Regions from separate parts of the Homo sapiens genome. Here regions 1 and 3 are each linked to region 2. The links come from fine-mapping of genetic effects on gene expression. A gene starts in region 2. Each other region holds a variant in brackets. All regions are shown on one strand. Distances are from middle to middle.

Region 1 (2,763 bases), 50 kb before region 2:
GAGGCTGAGGCAGGAGAATTGCTTGCACCTTGGAGGCAGAGGTTGCAGTGAGCCAAGATCATGCTACTGCACTCCAGCCTGGGTGACAGAGCAAAACTTTGTCTCAAAAAAAAAAAAAAACTCAAAATAAATTTTTTATACTCGGAATTGAATTTGCTTTTTAAGCCCATTAGAATTACAGTTTTTGTAATTTTTTTTATTTTTAACAAGTAAGCTCTGTGAATTCCATAGAATTGTATTTCCCATTATAGATTCATATCTCACAGTTGAAGTGAACTGCTTTTTTCAAATGTTGGTTTATTGAGCTAAAATTTTGGCATCACCTCAGCTTTTCTGTATAGCTCTTTAAAACAAATAGATTCCTGAATATGCTAATTATAAATATGACTATTATCATTGTTTAAAACATAAAAATTCCCATAAAAATCACAAAAAAATAAAATTAGCTACCTGGCAAGAGAATGAAATGGTGATCTATAGACTGGGAGAAAATATTTACAAATCACATATTGATAAAGAACTTGTATCCAGAATATATAAAGAACTCTCCAACTCAGTAATCAAAACACAAATAATCCAATAAAAAATGGAAAAGATTTGGACAGACACTTCACAAGAGAAGATACATGGCAAATAAGCACCTGAGAAAATGTTCAGTATCATTGGTCATTAGGAAAATGCAAATTAAATCACAACGAGGTGTCACTTCATAGGTATGGGAATAGCTAAAATTGAAAAGACTGGGCATTTCAAGTGTTGGTGAGGATGTAGAGAAACTGCAGTTGTCACACGCTGCTAGTAGGCATACAAAATGCTACACCCACTTCGGAAAAGAGTTTGGTAATTTCTTAAAAAGTTAAAGACGTCTATCATATGACCTCGCCCAGGATAAGTAAAAGCCTACACCCACAAATGAAGATTTGTAGGCAAATGTTCATAGCAACTTTATTTGTAATATCCCTAACATGGAAACAAACCCATGGCTGGATTGCAAAATAATCATTCTGAGGGAAAAAAGCCAGACCAAAAACAAACAAAAAAATACATCTAGTGATTCCATTTGTATAAAATCCTAGAAAACGCAAACTAATCTATAGAGGCAGAAAGTAGATCAATGGTTTCTAGAAATGGTAGGGGGAGGCCGGGCACGGTGGCTCACGCCTGTAATCCCAGCACTTTGGGAGGTCGAGGTGGGTGGACCACCTGAGATCAGGAGTTCGAAACCAGCCTGGCCAACATGGTGAAACCCCGTCTCTACTAAAAATACAAAAATGAGCCGGGTGTGGTGGCATGCACCTGTAGTCCTAGCTACTTGGGAGGCTGAGGCAGGAGAATCAGTTGAACCTGGGAGGCGGAGGTTGCAGCGAGCTGGGATTTTGTCACTGCACTCCAGCATGGGCAATAGAGTGAGATTCTGTCAAAAAAAGAAAGGAAGGAAGGAAGGAAGGAAGGAAGGGAAGGAAGGAAGGAAGGAAGGAAGGAAGCGTGGGTAGCAGGATGGGGAAGGAGGTAGGGATTACTAAGGGACACAAGAAAATTTTAGAAGGTGATGGGAAAACTTACCAAACTTTACACTTTAAATATGTGCAGTGTATTA[C/T]ATGACAATCATACTTCAATAAAGCTGATAATGAGAAAAATAGGTAGATGTGGTCAGTATTTGCAGTTTAAGTGGAGCTTGAAGCATGATCAATATTTAACCAAGATAGTCTTTAGAGATCAGGCTTGTATAAGTTAGTGATGATGCCTTGAAAGTGTGAGTTTGACCTTCAAATAATGCCTAACATTTCTCATGGCTACCGCAAAGAAGTTTCCTGATTTATTTTTCACCTTTACTGGGTTTAAGCAGGGTGTATTTATCTTCTTGGTGACTGACGAAACCCTGGCCATTTCCTCCCTGGGATGCTTTTAGCCAGGCAAGCTTGCCTTCCATGTCATAGGATGGTTCACTTAAAAAATTTATAAACTTAATATAGAAATCTCATGTATCACATATTTCTTTGAGTTTTGGAGATGGCTGCAAATGAATTTTTCCTTGTCTAGTAGTTTTATGGTATTGTTTAAATAAATCTTCATTGCTTCATTCATCCTTGAAGACACTATTTAAGTTTAATCATCCACGTAAGCCACAGTTGACGTAATAAACGAAATAAGAAAAATGGTAAGGGCAATATATTTTAATGCATAGAGATTTACTTTCCAAATTCCTTGAAATATAAAATTTGAAGATACAATGGCTTGTCAATCAATGATTAAAATAGCTTTCTAAGAGAAATACCACAGGCTTCTTATAAAAGACGATGATTGAACATATGTATTTGCCTACCTTCCTTCCTGAAACCCTATAGAAATGGTCATAAAGTAGTAAAACAGGAAGAGAAAAAAGAAGAAACCTATAAGAGTAAGGAGAAAGCAAAGAAGATATCAGCATATGAAAGAGATCAGCAAATATCTGGACAATGGAAAAAGAAAAAGAGCATGATAGCAGAAGAGGCCCTGGATATCCCCAAAAAGAAAGGCTCCAGAGTAGGGATGCACCAGGGTTCCCAGGAGTGGCTGAATCTGTAGTTACAGAGGGCAAAGTTCAAAGGTGGACCTGAAACCTGGGGACTTCATTAGAGATCTATTTAGAGAACAGTTGCACCCACCACCACTACTTCCACTCTTAAATGCAGAACGACACCCTTACAGGCCACCCTGACATTTGTCCCCACGCTCTTTTCTAAAGAAAGGAAACACACAGACACTCCTAGAATGGCAGTTCAC
Region 2 (2,763 bases):
CATGCCTTCCCCTGGGCTGGCAGGGCGGCGTGGGCAGTGCGCATCCCCGGGCACCTCCCGGTAACTCTCACTAGCAGTGAGTCATGCTCCCAGGGTGGCTCTGGGGAAAGGTAACCCGGCTCTTGCTGGCCTGTGATTCCCGGCGCCGAGCGCCGCGGCTGCAGGGCGAGCGCGCGCGCGCACGGGTTCCCCGAGCAGTGATGTGGCAGCAGCGGCAGGTCGGATCACGTTGCTGGCCCTGTGCTGGTACCCGTTTGAGACCGGATTAAGGAGGGAGGCTTTGGAGGTGCCAGCGGTAGTAAACGTGGGCTCTGCACACTCCGGGCGTCTCTTATCGCGCGGGGGGGCGGGGGGATGGGGAAAGCACGTAGCGTCACCGGAGGCTCAGAACGCGGCAGAGTTGAGCGGGCGGGTGATAAATGCTGCATAGCTTTTCTGTGGTAGCCCCTCTCGTGCCACCCCCTCTCGTGCCACCCCCTTCTCCCTTCCCAGCCCCCACTCAACCCCGGCTCGCTCCCCGCCGCGTTCCTCCAGGAGCACACGCGGCCCCAAACGTCGTCATCTGCTGCTGTGATTAGTGGCACCGCAATTCCGGCTGCTGCGGGGAAGTTTAGTTGGCCCAGGGACGCCGTGTCACCGAAAGACACTTGGATTGCGACATTCGGACCCAGTGACAACGTTTTCATGTATCTTAAATCCTTCAAGGAGCGGATTGCAAGTTGCTTCTTCTCGAGGCAACCTCTCCACCCAGCGCCAAGGAGTCCCTCCAGGCCACTGATCAGTGAGCAAACAAGTCTCCAAAATTTCCTTTGGGACTCAAGTTTACCCACCGCGAATTCTCTTTTCACTTCCTTTCTATGGTTCAAACCAACAGCACAATCGGTGGAAAAGCAAAAAGCCACGTTCACATTCCTGCACCGTAACAACGGACGAACCCAGGGAGTCGCATTTTGGAGCCAAGGAAGCTCAGGCTGCCCCGCACCCCTGCACCCCCACTCCCCCCTCCTCCTGCCGACTGCATCGCCTTTGGGAAGATGAATAGCTTGGCCGAAGTTGTTTTTCCTTTCCGGTGGCCCTGATCAGGTGTCCCCGCCCCCTCCTGCCGTTCGCCTTCTCTCGCCGCCTTCTCCCGACGCCCCCGCCCGGCCCGGCCCCTCCTCCCCCGCCCCCCTCCGGGCTGGACCGCGGATGGTACGTTCCGCACGTGAGCTGGGTGCTGGTCTGGCCGGCGACGCGCGTGCCCTGTGGCCAAACACTGCCTGGAGTGAGAGCAAACTACCAGCGCAGTGGGGCCGGCGCGAGTGTGCGTGTGTGTGCGTGTGTGTGTGCGAGCGCGGTGGAGGGGGGGGACCAACTGCTTCACACTTTCAACACTGCACTGAAGAGGGAGAGCGAGAGAGAGACTGGAGACGCACAGATCCCCCCAAGGTCTCCCAAGCCTACCGTCCCACAGATTATTGTACAGAGCCCCAAAAATCGAAACAGAGGAAACGAACAGCAGTTGAACATGGACGAAGGAATTCCTCATTTGCAAGAGAGACAGTTACTGGAACATAGAGATTTTATAGGGTAAGGTGCACGCACCCTTGCGAATATCTGTCTAGGCTTTGGTTTGATTTTTTTCTTCTCCAGAAAGTGGTATGGAGCTGGCGAGGGCAGAGCCCCTCCCCGAATGGGTGCCTGATGCTGATTTCTGTTTTGCAGACTGGACTATTCCTCTTTGTATATGTGTAAACCCAAAAGGAGCATGAAACGAGACGACACCAAGGTAAGTGTAAGTTCCCGATATTCCTCATAACCTGCATGGGTAGTTAATTAGAGCCATTGATTTCACAGTGAAGCTCTGCCCGCAAATATATTCCAGCCCCTGAGCTTCCCCAACTGTGAATTTTAAGTGGCTTGCTGGGTACTCTCAGGGGGATATTAAACATCATACCTGAATTTAAATTGCATTGCAGAACAGTCCAGAGGAAAGAGGTTTCTTGGGTGTAGTTTATCACATAGTATGTTTTATGGTGGGGGGGCGGGGGGGGCAGACGAGGGTAATATCCAATAAGTGAATGTTTCGCTTACTGTTTTCTCTTTTCCATGACTCTCATATATTAAGGATACCTACAAATTACCGCACAGATTAATAGAAAAGAAAAGAAGAGACCGAATTAATGAATGCATTGCTCAGCTGAAAGATTTACTGCCTGAACATCTGAAATTGACAGTAAGATGCACATTTTCATTCTTTGCTGCTCTCCAAGGGCGTGTTAATAGTCTGGTGCGACTCCCAGAAAATATAAGAATAAATGTAAATATAAGTTCCTGACTTAAAACTTGTGCTATACCGTACAGAGTTTCCCGCAAACTGGAGTAGGTGCTCCCAGCTGAAGGCAAGAAATCATTTATAACCTGTCTTGTGGAAAGCTCAAGAAGTAAAAGAACAGTACTTCTTTCAAAGTGTTTGCTTAAATTGCTGTGCTGAATGGACAGCCAATTAAGCCAAATGTGTGTTTTTAAGTAACCAAGTGCCCGTTTCTTTTTTGCACCACTGCAGACTCTGGGACATCTGGAGAAAGCTGTAGTCTTGGAATTAACTTTGAAACACTTAAAAGCTTTAACCGCCTTAACCGAGCAACAGCATCAGAAGATAATTGCTTTACAGAATGGTAAGTCAGTTCAGGGAGGCCAGCCTACCCTGATGAAGCGGGGCAGCCCACAGGGGAGCAGTGTCAGGACTCCCTCACCCGCACCCCATCTCTTTCCGTGGGCTCA
Region 3 (2,763 bases), 150 kb before region 2:
TTGTCCTAGCTCAGGAGAATGAGGCAGGTGGATTGCTTGAGCCAAGGAGTTCAAGGCTACAGTGAGCTATGATCATGCCAGTGCACTCCAGCCTGGGTGACAGAATGAGACCCTGTCTCTAAATAGATAAATAAATAAATAAAAATAAAAAAGATAGAGATAATAATATTAAGCCAACAAGGTTGTTGTAAGGATAAAACTGAGTTAATATGTAAAGTCCTTTAGTGCTGTGCTCAACACACAAGAAGTGCTCCTCCCTACATGTGGACACTACATGGGATGATATGATGATGATGATGATGATGATGACGATGACGATGTCAGCCATGTGGCTGCCCCTCATCTTATAGCACTTATCTTGTCCATCTGGTGCTAAAGAGCCAGTCTCAGAGGAGGTATGTCATCTGCTTCCTATGGTCAGCTGAGTTGAACAAAATACCATGAAGTGATTCAAGCCAGGAAGTCAATCAATATAACTCAAGCTGAAAGAGCCCTTCTTTAAAGAATCTAAAGAATTGCCTCATCTTTCCTCCTTCCTTTTCTCAACCAAACAACAAAATGTTTTGCCTTAAGAATTAGATGCCTTAAGGATTTTGTTTTAAATTAGAATTTTATGAATGTCCTTCCTCTCTGAAATTTTATATTATAAATATGTGTAGAAATACTCTAAAGGGATGTCTGTGATCTGGGTGTTGGGATTTCATCTTGCTACATGGGATAATGAAATACGGAACTTATTTGAGCAGAGATTCAGGTCTATTGAGAATTATAACCAAAGTACCGCTTATTGAGCACTTTCTAAGCTAAACGACTTTATATACTTTATCGAATCCTTACTATAAATTTATATTTTCTCCATTTTGCAAATGAAAATTCTAAAGAAAAATTTTACTAGTTGTAAAAAGGCCATATCTGCTTGGCCATAAGACCTGTTTATGCTATTCTGTCTCACTAACAAATTTTTAGATAGAAGTCACTAGAGATGAACATTAGGCTAACCTTAAAAGATAATGATGGAGAAAAAGAAAAACACTCAAAATGCTTTACAAGTTTTACTTTAGTCTTCACAACCACCCTACGAGGTAGCAGCTTTTGTTGCCTTCATTTTACAGATGAGGGATCCAAGCAGAGAAATCAGTTGTGTGCCAGACTCACATAGCTGGTGGCCCGTAGCAGAGCTGGGATTCAAACCCAGGCAGTTTGACCTTGAGCTTTGTGTTATGCTGTCATAGGCAGGGGTCAGTCTCCTGAAGCCTTGCACAGGGAAGGAAATGTTCCCTTCCTTGTGCATTAGGCAAGCTGCCCTGAACTTCCTGCAGCACCCACCATAGAATAACCCACCAACTCCATAGGAAACCTCGCTTATGCACCCAGATCTGGTCTGTGATTTGCTACAGAAAGACAAGAAATGGCCTGTGGCTTCTTGCTAGGTATGTTGAAAAGCATGGTGGGGTGGGAGTGCAAGCCATGATTAATTGTTTGCTGATGTGGAAAGTCTATAAAGTTTGAACCACATTTCTCAGAAACATGAAGAGGAACAAATA[A/G]TTTCTGGTCCATTAAGCCTTTTCTTACAGGGCTTCATATTGTTTTCTCAGGGGTTTTGTTTGTTTGTTTGACCTCAGAATGTGAGCAATAATGTGTCTTTTTTTTCCCTTTCTGGCTAAAACCAAACCTTTTGACTTCTCAGTTGATATAAACGTGCCCTTTCTCCCGCCCCTCAGACTTGTTCTTTCTTTTTTTTTTTTTTTAAGATGGAGTCTCACCCTGTCACCCAGGCTGGAGTGCAATGGCGCAATCTTGACTCACTGCAACCTCCGCCTCCTGGGTTCAAGTGATTCTCCTGCCTCAGCCTACGGAGTAGCTGGGATTATAGGCGCTCGCCACCATGCCTGGCTAATTTTTTTGTATCTTTAGTAGAGATGGTGTTTCACCATGTTGGCCAGTCTGGTCTCAAACTCCTGACCTCGTGATCCGCCCGCCTCAGCCTCCCAAAATGCTGGGATTACAGCAGGGCCACCGTGTACGGCTGACTTGTTTCATTTCTTAGAGCTAAAATGAGGTTTGGAGAAAGCTCTGTTCATTTTGAAGCCTCAGTCTTCACCCCAACACTCCTGGATCCTGGCTGGAGGAGCTGTGATTACCCGAGATAGGAAAACCCTGGCAGCTCAGCTACAGGCCTAAATAAACAGTGAATCTTCTTGCAAGCAGCCCATCTGGGCTTCAAATGCCCCCAGAGTCTCCTTCAGCCTGGTGCGTGGGCTCTGTGGGGCCTGCATTTCAGAGCCTCCTGTGGTGCTTCCCCTTCCAGGGCAGGCCCCACTGGGCACTGACTCAGGGCTTATCATTCTTTACTAGAAGTTCCGGATGAAGCAATGCAGGGGAGAGAGTCACTGTTTCTGCTCCCTAACTCTGACCATGACTCATTATTCAGCAAACACAAAACGGTTCCACATCCTCCTCCCGAGAAGGAGGCGCAGAGCCCATTACATAAGCAGCAGTCTACAGCTGCTCTTGGGTAATTGAAAGTGAAGCCCTCAACTGGAGGTCCTGCTGGGATGGCATGACTCCCTCCTCACCCCTTGATACCAATCTTTATGAGCAGAGAAACCCTCTCCAGGAGAGGGCCCCCAAAGCCAGGGGGTTTGTTTTTTGCACAGTAGGCCTCATGTTTGGAATAGCTTGTATTTTCTGCCTTGTTAAAACCTGGCCCTTCCGTAGTGTCTCTGATCTTATCTCCTGATGAGCCAGAGCTGAGCTGCGGGA

What was found. PIP is the estimated chance that this variant, and not a neighbour inherited with it, causes the effect. A credible set is the group of variants that fine-mapping cannot tell apart.
Region 1: its variant is the best candidate, but not a certain one, in a credible set for the expression of BHLHE41 in testis (GTEx, PIP 0.51).
Region 3: its variant is the best candidate, but not a certain one, in a credible set for the expression of BHLHE41 in thyroid (GTEx, PIP 0.62).

Annotation. Positions count from the first base shown.
Region 1 is chr12:26,173,197-26,175,959 of GRCh38, reverse strand. It overlaps a transcript of SSPN not described here. Among named protein-coding and RNA genes, the nearest start is that of SSPN, 21 kb to the left of the region's middle. The variant C/T (reference allele first, on the strand shown) is at 1,598.
Region 2 is chr12:26,123,524-26,126,286 of GRCh38, reverse strand. BHLHE41 (basic helix-loop-helix family member e41) reads left to right here and starts at 1,250. Exons shown (of 5, transcript NM_030762.3): 1 at 1,250-1,569; 2 at 1,705-1,768; 3 at 2,108-2,215; 4 at 2,546-2,657. The coding sequence starts at 1,508. It also overlaps a transcript of SSPN not described here.
Region 3 is chr12:26,274,526-26,277,288 of GRCh38, reverse strand. The region is part of intron 1 of LOC105369705 (a long non-coding RNA gene); the gene reads right to left. LOC105369704 (a long non-coding RNA gene) reads left to right here and starts at 1,234. Exons shown (of 2, transcript NR_188068.1): 1 at 1,234-1,430. RefSeq lists enhancers at 2,052-2,101, 2,122-2,561. The variant A/G (reference allele first, on the strand shown) is at 1,545.